Homo sapiens: one gene and its partner. The protein of the gene in region 2 purifies or fractionates together with the protein of the main gene of each other region. This does not show direct contact. Each region holds a gene or a part of one and is shown on either strand. Other genes may lie near its edges. The genes, in order: HERC4 and H2AZ2.

Region 1 (3,500 bases), on a different chromosome or scaffold from region 2:
ATGTTCATAATTACAACTAGGACCCAATCTCTTTCACAAGATAACCACTTACAGCTAACAAAAACCATATAATGCAAACTAACAAATTATATTCTTCATAAGGAAATATAAGGAGAATTCTAACTCATTAGTATGTTATTGTTCTGCCCAACTATGGATAAGTTATCTATACATGCCTAACAAAGTCAGGTAAGACCAGAGCTCCAAAGGACAGGTTTATTACTTCTTTTAAGAGAAAGTATAGATAACTTTTCCAAATTTCTATAATATGCATTGTTTTTGCCAATCTAAATCTTTAATAGATTAATGTTAAAATGAACAGTATCAATCTGTTAATAGGAATGGGGAAAGAGGAAAATAAAGGAATGATTGGACATACCCTATGTAGTATTTCTAAAACCTTTAATGCAGTATGAAGAAAACTGTTGAAAATTCTTCTTTCAGAAGGGGGAATACCGATCTTGTAGAGTTTCAAAAGATGTACCACAACTTCCTTAAAAAGTTCTACTATCTTGAGGAATAGTGGAGGTTCAAGTACTGACCACCAGTTTTCTGTTATTAAAAAGTGAACATGCAAATAAAATGAATTTTTTAAAAAATCACAATTTTCAAAATCATACTGACTTTTTTTCTGAAACAGTAGTTGTTAAACCTGAGAAAACCCCAGAAAGATGCATATAACACAATATCTTATGTAACATTTGTAAGGTTTATAAACCTCCCCCCGACCAAGTTAAACAATATTGTCCGAAAAGCTCTCAAAAGCAAAAATAAAGTGTGAAAGTCTTGTTGAATTTATATTCTTGGTTTCCTAAGTTATATAAAAAACTCACCACTATACCTAATATTAAAACCAGTTTTTAAAAAATGTTTTGAAAATTACAGTTTCAATTTTTAAACAAAACATCCTTTAAATTGTATTGCTCTAATACTAAAGGATCTTTCTAACTTTTATCTTTCAATTTAATATATGGTTGAAATATTGTGAACCACTACCTTTAAAATGCAAGGTACTCCTGAAGATCAAATACAGAAGCTGAACAATGTAAAGTGTAACATATGGGTCCTTCCCCACATTCACTATTTGTAGTTACTAAGTACAAACACTTCAATCCTATGAAGCAGGCAGAAAGAATACAAAAACTTCTGACAACAGGAAAGCAATACTCTTTTCAGTCCCTGCTTGACTCTTTTTCCCTCAGATTCCCATATTCTACCCCTTGCTTGTTGCTTCCTCCATTTACCCTCAGCCTTAAAGTTCTTGTACTGACATTATTACTTCTATATATCTCAGCTCCACATATCTAACAAATACCATTAGAAAGAAAAGCACTGGGTTAAATGTAGCAAAAAAAGTATAAAGGCCAGGAAATAGAGATAAAATCTAGACAATTAGAAAAATTAAAGTGAGAAAACTTTATGCCAAAAAACCAGAACAGTAAGAGATAGAAGTGCAAGATCAGATGAGCAATAAAATCTAGTCTATAGGCAGAAAAATAAAATCAAATATCATGAAATTAGCAAGTGAAGGAAACACAAGATAAAGGGCTTATATCAGGGTTCCAAGAAGATTTAAAGCCCATGTTTGTTCAGTTTTAATTGTTCCTCCTCCTTTACTTCTTTAATAGCAAGATTATACTAAAGGCGATGAGGGAAAGGAATACGGGTGACAGTTTTTAACTTTCCTAATACTGTCTCTGCTGTTATGTTTAATTGAACTTCTATATCTAACATGTTTTTCTTTCAACAACTCCAACAACTAGAATCAAAAGACTAGACAAAAGCAAGAAAAGGAAAAACAGGTTCATTTTTGCCTAAGACAGTGTCAAATAAGCAGGGCAGCAGAACTGCAAATGGCAAAAGAACTTATGAAGCATTTTCATTTAAAGAGAAAAGGTTTCAAAAGAAAAAATATTAGAATTCTTACCAAGTACTTTCAGTGGTGCCTTTTCTAGGTTCACAAGAGCTGTACCAAAGGGAATTGCTATTGTTGTGAAATTGTTGGAATCACTCATCAGGGGACATTCTGGTAGAGTAAGATAAAACCTCAATGCTTCAACATCAGGTAAGGAGCTAGTCAGTTTAGGAATAAGATTCTTTTCCAAACTAGCTGCCACCTATATTTTGACAAAAAGTAAAACCTACTTCATTTAAAATGAATACACTTTCAAAGAAAAAAAAAAAAAAGGAAGGCAGGAAGAAAAGAAAGAAAAGGAAAATTTTGCACTACAGCAAATATGAAATGGTGAAGAAGAAAAAAGAAAGACAATGTCTTACAATGAATATACTTTGGAGCACAATGAAAATTAATGCCTAAGCATTACTTGGAGAATTTAAAAAATCACGTGTACAAGTCTCAATTTAAACTCTCTACCTCTATAACCATACACAAACTTAAGCAACGTGGTAATGTTAAGTAATTCAGGGTCTGCTTCAAACATCTGAAAAGATTTATAGATCTTTGACAGCTAAATTACAAATGCTTTAAAATAAAATCTTATTTTAAAAGCACATCGTAAGAGTCTGTGAAACTGCAAAGTAAATTAGGCTATAAACGTATAAAACAAAAGAAAACAAAATCAACAGATAATACTGTAAACATAATACTTTAAAAACAGACCTGCTGAGATATCTGCGGATGATCAGGTTGTATAAGTTTGTGGAATAAAAGCCTAGCAGCATTCATATCAACCCCTGAAAATCTGGTACCTGTTCTATAGTGATCATCATTGCTAAAAAACAGAAAAGAAAAAAAAAAATAGAATAAAAATTTAAAATTATTTCATTTTTTAATTTGATATACTATTTAAGACAATAAATTTGAAAATTTCAGCATATTAAAGAATTGCCACTTACCTAACAGCTAAAAAACTTCCATTTAGGCAACCAGAGGAAGAAAACGTTCCATCTATCTCACTAAAAAATTTAAAAAAGTTTTTTTAATCATAGAATCAGAAATTTAATTGTTTACCCTTTCTTAAAAAAGAATTAAAATGAATAATTAATCTAATGTTTAATGCTACAGAGCACTCCTCTAACACCCAATTAGATGAATCAGAATTACATAAATTGCTAAAGACTGATAAAATAATACTTGATGAAGGTATTACTGTTTATTCTAGACTTTCTTAAATATTACTTTCATCCATTTATCCAATGTTATCTGCTTTAAAACATGGTATTTTAAAAATTAAGTGTGTATGTTCATGTAAAAAGTTTTTTAATTTAAAAAAATTTTAAACATTTTATATTGGCAGTGAGCCTAATCTGGGATGCCTTTGGGATTTTCAGAAAAATTATAGTTTTGGAAAACAAGCTAGAGAAACAAAACAGCTTTTCAAATACAACCCATCATCCCAAATACCAACAAAAAACAAATAACATCTTAAGTGCTACTAGGCAAGTTAACAAAATATTCAAGAAAGAAATAATACTCAAGTCTTCCACAAAGTATAAAAGTTAAGATAGTGACCATTATAAAACCAGAAGGAACACATTTC
Region 2 (4,034 bases):
CGTTCAACATGACCCATGGATCAAATTCCTATCTAGTTAATTTCTTCACATAATAGCCACATGCAACTTTGAACCTCCAATACCTTCCTCAGATCTTAAATGTTCTTTCTTCAGTTTCAAGAGGTGATCTGATAGTTAAGAAAAATCAATACTATTATCTCATTGTGGTTCTTTCTACTTTCTGAAAAAGAGGGTATTTTTCTCATTTCAAAGTATCCTGATCCCACTTGTCTGTGCCCTTTATTATTTTTTTTATTGAGACAGAGTCTCACTCTGTCACCCAGGCTGGAGTGCAGTGGCGCCATCTTGGCTCACTGCAACCTCCGCCTCCCGGGTTCAGGCGATTCTCCTGCCTCAGCCTCCTGAGTAGGTGGGATTATAGGCGCGCCAGGACGCCTGGCTGTTTTGTATTTTTAGTAGAGACAGGGTTTTGAGTGATCTGTCCACCTTAGCCTCCCAAAGTGCTGGGATTACAGGCATGAGCCACTGTGCCCCGCCAGTCTGTGCCTTTCTTACAGGCCTCCCTCAACCCTTCACTGCTCCATTATTTCAACAGCTACAATTACTTCCTTTCCGCTGGTTCCTTTCCTTCTACAGACTTTACTGAAAACTTCACAATCTATGAAAACTGCTTCCAGTTACAGTCTAGACAGTCTCTTTCCAAAGACTGAATTGAAAAAACAAATCCTGAAACCCTTACTTCCTTGTCACCCATTTTTCCTAACCCTAACTTGACCTTTGAAGGCCAGCAGTGACATTTTACTTCCTTAATAAAAACAAGCAATCTTTTTTTTGCATTTATACTTCATCTCTAAGTGACCAAAAGCTTCTTAAGGGCAAGATTTATGTCTTCTTTTCCTTTGTATCCTTAGTAACCAGTATGTTGTCTGGCATACAGTAGGCCCTCAAAAACATTTCATCTTAGACTTCAGAGTTCTCATACCAAGTCTGACTACTCCTCAGCCTTTTCTTAAAGTTTTTCAGGGGTCCACCAACGTCCCTGTGCTCCTTTCTCATTCTCTTAGGTTAGGAAACTCATCCATAACATAAACTATCCATTTTACATAAATGATCTCAAATTCCTAATTCTATCACCTCTATTAGAAAGCTGAACTCATGTTTCCAACTTCTGGACATTTTCACATGGATGTTTTAGTGAACTTCAAAATGATTCCATTTAAATTTACTCATAACTTGCCCCTACTACAAACTCCTCTGTTCCTTAGGTTCTAAGCCTTAGAGAAACCTGTGACTTTCTCTCAACCTTATACTGCTTCACCTATTTTCTGCACACACATGCTTTCTACTCCTTCCCATTCAAGTATGTTACTTTATTCCTAAACCACTGCAAAAACCTCCATTGGCCTTCCATTTTCTACTTCAAATTAAGTATGCCTTAAAATAAATTCTAATTGGGAATATACATGGAGACCTAAAATACAGAATGTGCATATCAGTTTAAGTTCCCATCCCCCTTCTTTCGGTATCATCTGGATAATGTTGTCCTCTGGCTCAAACTCTCAATGGCTTACCACTGCCAAGAGGATAACAGTTTACAGCTTAGCCTTCCTGATTAAAAGGGTTTCTCAGCCAGGCGCGGTGGCTCATGCCTGTAATTCCAGCCCTCTGGGAGGCTGAGGCAGGCAGATCACGAGGTCAAGAGATTGAGACCATCTTGGCCAACATGGTGAAATCCCGTCTCTACTAAAAATACAAAAACTAGCTGGGTATGGTGGCGCACGCCTGCAGTCCCAGCTATGTGGGAGCCTGAGGCAGGAGAATCGCTTGAATCCAGGAGGCAGAGGTTGCAGTGAGCCGAGATTGCACCACTGCACTCCAGCCTGACGACAGAGTGAGACTCTGTCTCAAAAAAAAAAAAAAAAAAAAAAAAAAAAAAAAAAAAAAGTCTGTAGTAATACAAGTAGATTTTTGTAATTGATGAAACATAGGTCATAAATTACAACAGTAAAGAAAATAATAATGTAATGACAGCATGGATTCATTACCTGTAGCCCAGCTCTCTGTGAGCGAGATACTGCCTTAGCCTTGGCCTTCCCACTGTCCTTTCCAGCTTTGCCTCCAGCCTAAATGCAAAAAAAAATTTTTTTGAATGAAAAGAGTTGAAAATACTACTTCAAAAATATTCTGGAAACAGAATTTTTTCTAGTTTTACTTTAGGTAGTTAACAATATGTAGGTGATCCCCTTCCTCATTTGTAAATATACATGGGATTCTATCACCTTTTATAATTTCTATCAAAGAAATCAAACCTTAAACACTTATTTAAAATATTTTTCTTTTTTCTTGAGATGGAGTCTAGCTCTGTTGCCCAGGCTGGAGTGCAGTGGTGCGACCTTGACTCACTGCAAACTCCACCTCCTGGGCTCAAGCGATTCTCCTGCCTCAGCCTCCTGAGTAGCTGAGATTACAGGCGCACACCACCACACATGGCTAATTTTTGTATTTTTAGTAGAGGTGGGTTTCACTATGTTGGCCAAGCTGGTCTTGAACTCCTGACCTCAAGTGATCCGCCCGCCTAGGCCTCCCAAAGTGCTGGGATTACAGGCATAAGCCACAGTGCCAGGCTGAAAAATATGAGATTTTTAAAAACAAACATATTTATCAATTTCCAGATTAAAGAATCTTGCAAGTCAATATAACTTTTATGCATACATGAAATATTTCACAATTTTTATCAATGTCAATGTAACATATATTACTTCCACAGAAATATTTAGAACTTAGCTCTCAGAAAAATAAAGCATGTTCCAAGAAAAAAAAAAAAAACCTCAAAAAATTAAACACAGAATTGTCATATAGTCTAGCAATTCCACTTCTAGGTATACACCTAAAAATTGAAAGCAAGGATTCAAACAAATACATGTATACCCACGTTCACAGAAGCATTATTCAGAATAGCCAAAAGGTAGAAACAATCTTGAGTGTCCAATGATGGATGAACAAAATGATATACATATAATGGAATAGTATTCAGCTTTAAAAAGGAAATTCTGACACAAGCTACAACATGAATGGGCCTTGAGGACATTATGCTAAGGAAAATAAGCCAGTTACAAAAAAGACAAATACTGTATGATTCTACTTATGAGGTCCCTAAAATAGTAAAGTTCATGGTCAGAAAGCAGATTTGTGGTTGCCAGGGGTAGCTGCCTCCTGGGTTCAAGTGATTCTCCTGCCTCAGCCTCCTAAGTAGCTGGTAGTATAGGTGCGCGCCACCATGCCCTGCTAATTTTTGTATTTTTAGTACCAACAAGGTTTCTGCATGTTGGCCAGGCTGGTCTTGAACTCCTGACCTCAAGTGATCTGCCTGTCTCATCCTCCCAAAGTACTGGGATTACAGGCGTGAGCCACTGCGCCTGGCCGAGTTATTGTTGAATGGGTAGAGTTTCCACTTGGGAAGATGAAAAAGTTCTAGAGGCAGAAGGCAGTGATGGTTGCACACTATAAATGTACTTAATGCCACTGAACTGTACGCTTTAAAAAAACCTATTTCTGCATGAAAAAGGCAAAGTATGTGCCAATGTAATGAGCTTTTAAGTAAATATGGGGTATTATAGAGTATATGTGTACACATGTATTTCTAGTAGGTGACACAATAAATTAGAAATGTTATTTGCCTCTCGGGAGGAAATACTAAAGGTCTGACTTAAGAAAACTAATTTTCTCTCATATATTTTGCTTTTACCATTTAAACAGATTATTTCTTTACTGTTAAAAAAAGAAATCAGTTTACAAGATTGGCTGTTTGAGGGGCTATTCTTTCAAAATAGATGGTAAGCTTTGAAATGGCATATCCCCTTTGTAGCTAACCCTTTCCTTAAAAATTTTTTAAAGCTAAAAATTACCCCTGTATACTTCCTCTAATTGCACGTCTAAGTGGATTAAGTGCGTGTCACCCAAGATAATATGGAAGAAAAACAGTAAAACCCTGGCAGGTATCAGAAACAGGAAAAATAAAAATCTAAGAACTAATTCATATTCACTCTCTTATATTAGGTAATTCAACAAGAGAC

The links.
Region 1: the proteins of H2AZ2 (region 2) and HERC4 fractionate together in Homo sapiens (co-fractionation; one large-scale study listed by BioGRID). This does not show direct contact.

Annotation. Positions count from the first base shown.
Region 1 is NC_000010.11:67,988,284-67,991,783, forward strand, and holds part of HERC4 (probable E3 ubiquitin-protein ligase HERC4), read right to left. Parts: intron 2,917-3,500; coding exon 2,857-2,916; intron 2,733-2,856; coding exon 2,621-2,732; intron 2,118-2,620; coding exon 1,928-2,117; intron 553-1,927; coding exon 380-552; intron 1-379. UniProt on the Homo sapiens protein: Probable E3 ubiquitin-protein ligase involved in either protein trafficking or in the distribution of cellular structures. Required for spermatozoon maturation and fertility, and for the removal of the cytoplasmic droplet of the spermatozoon.
Region 2 is NC_000007.14:44,841,271-44,845,304, forward strand, and holds part of H2AZ2 (histone H2A.V), read right to left. Parts: intron 2,085-4,034; coding exon 2,007-2,084; intron 1-2,006. UniProt on the Homo sapiens protein: Variant histone H2A which replaces conventional H2A in a subset of nucleosomes. Nucleosomes wrap and compact DNA into chromatin, limiting DNA accessibility to the cellular machineries which require DNA as a template.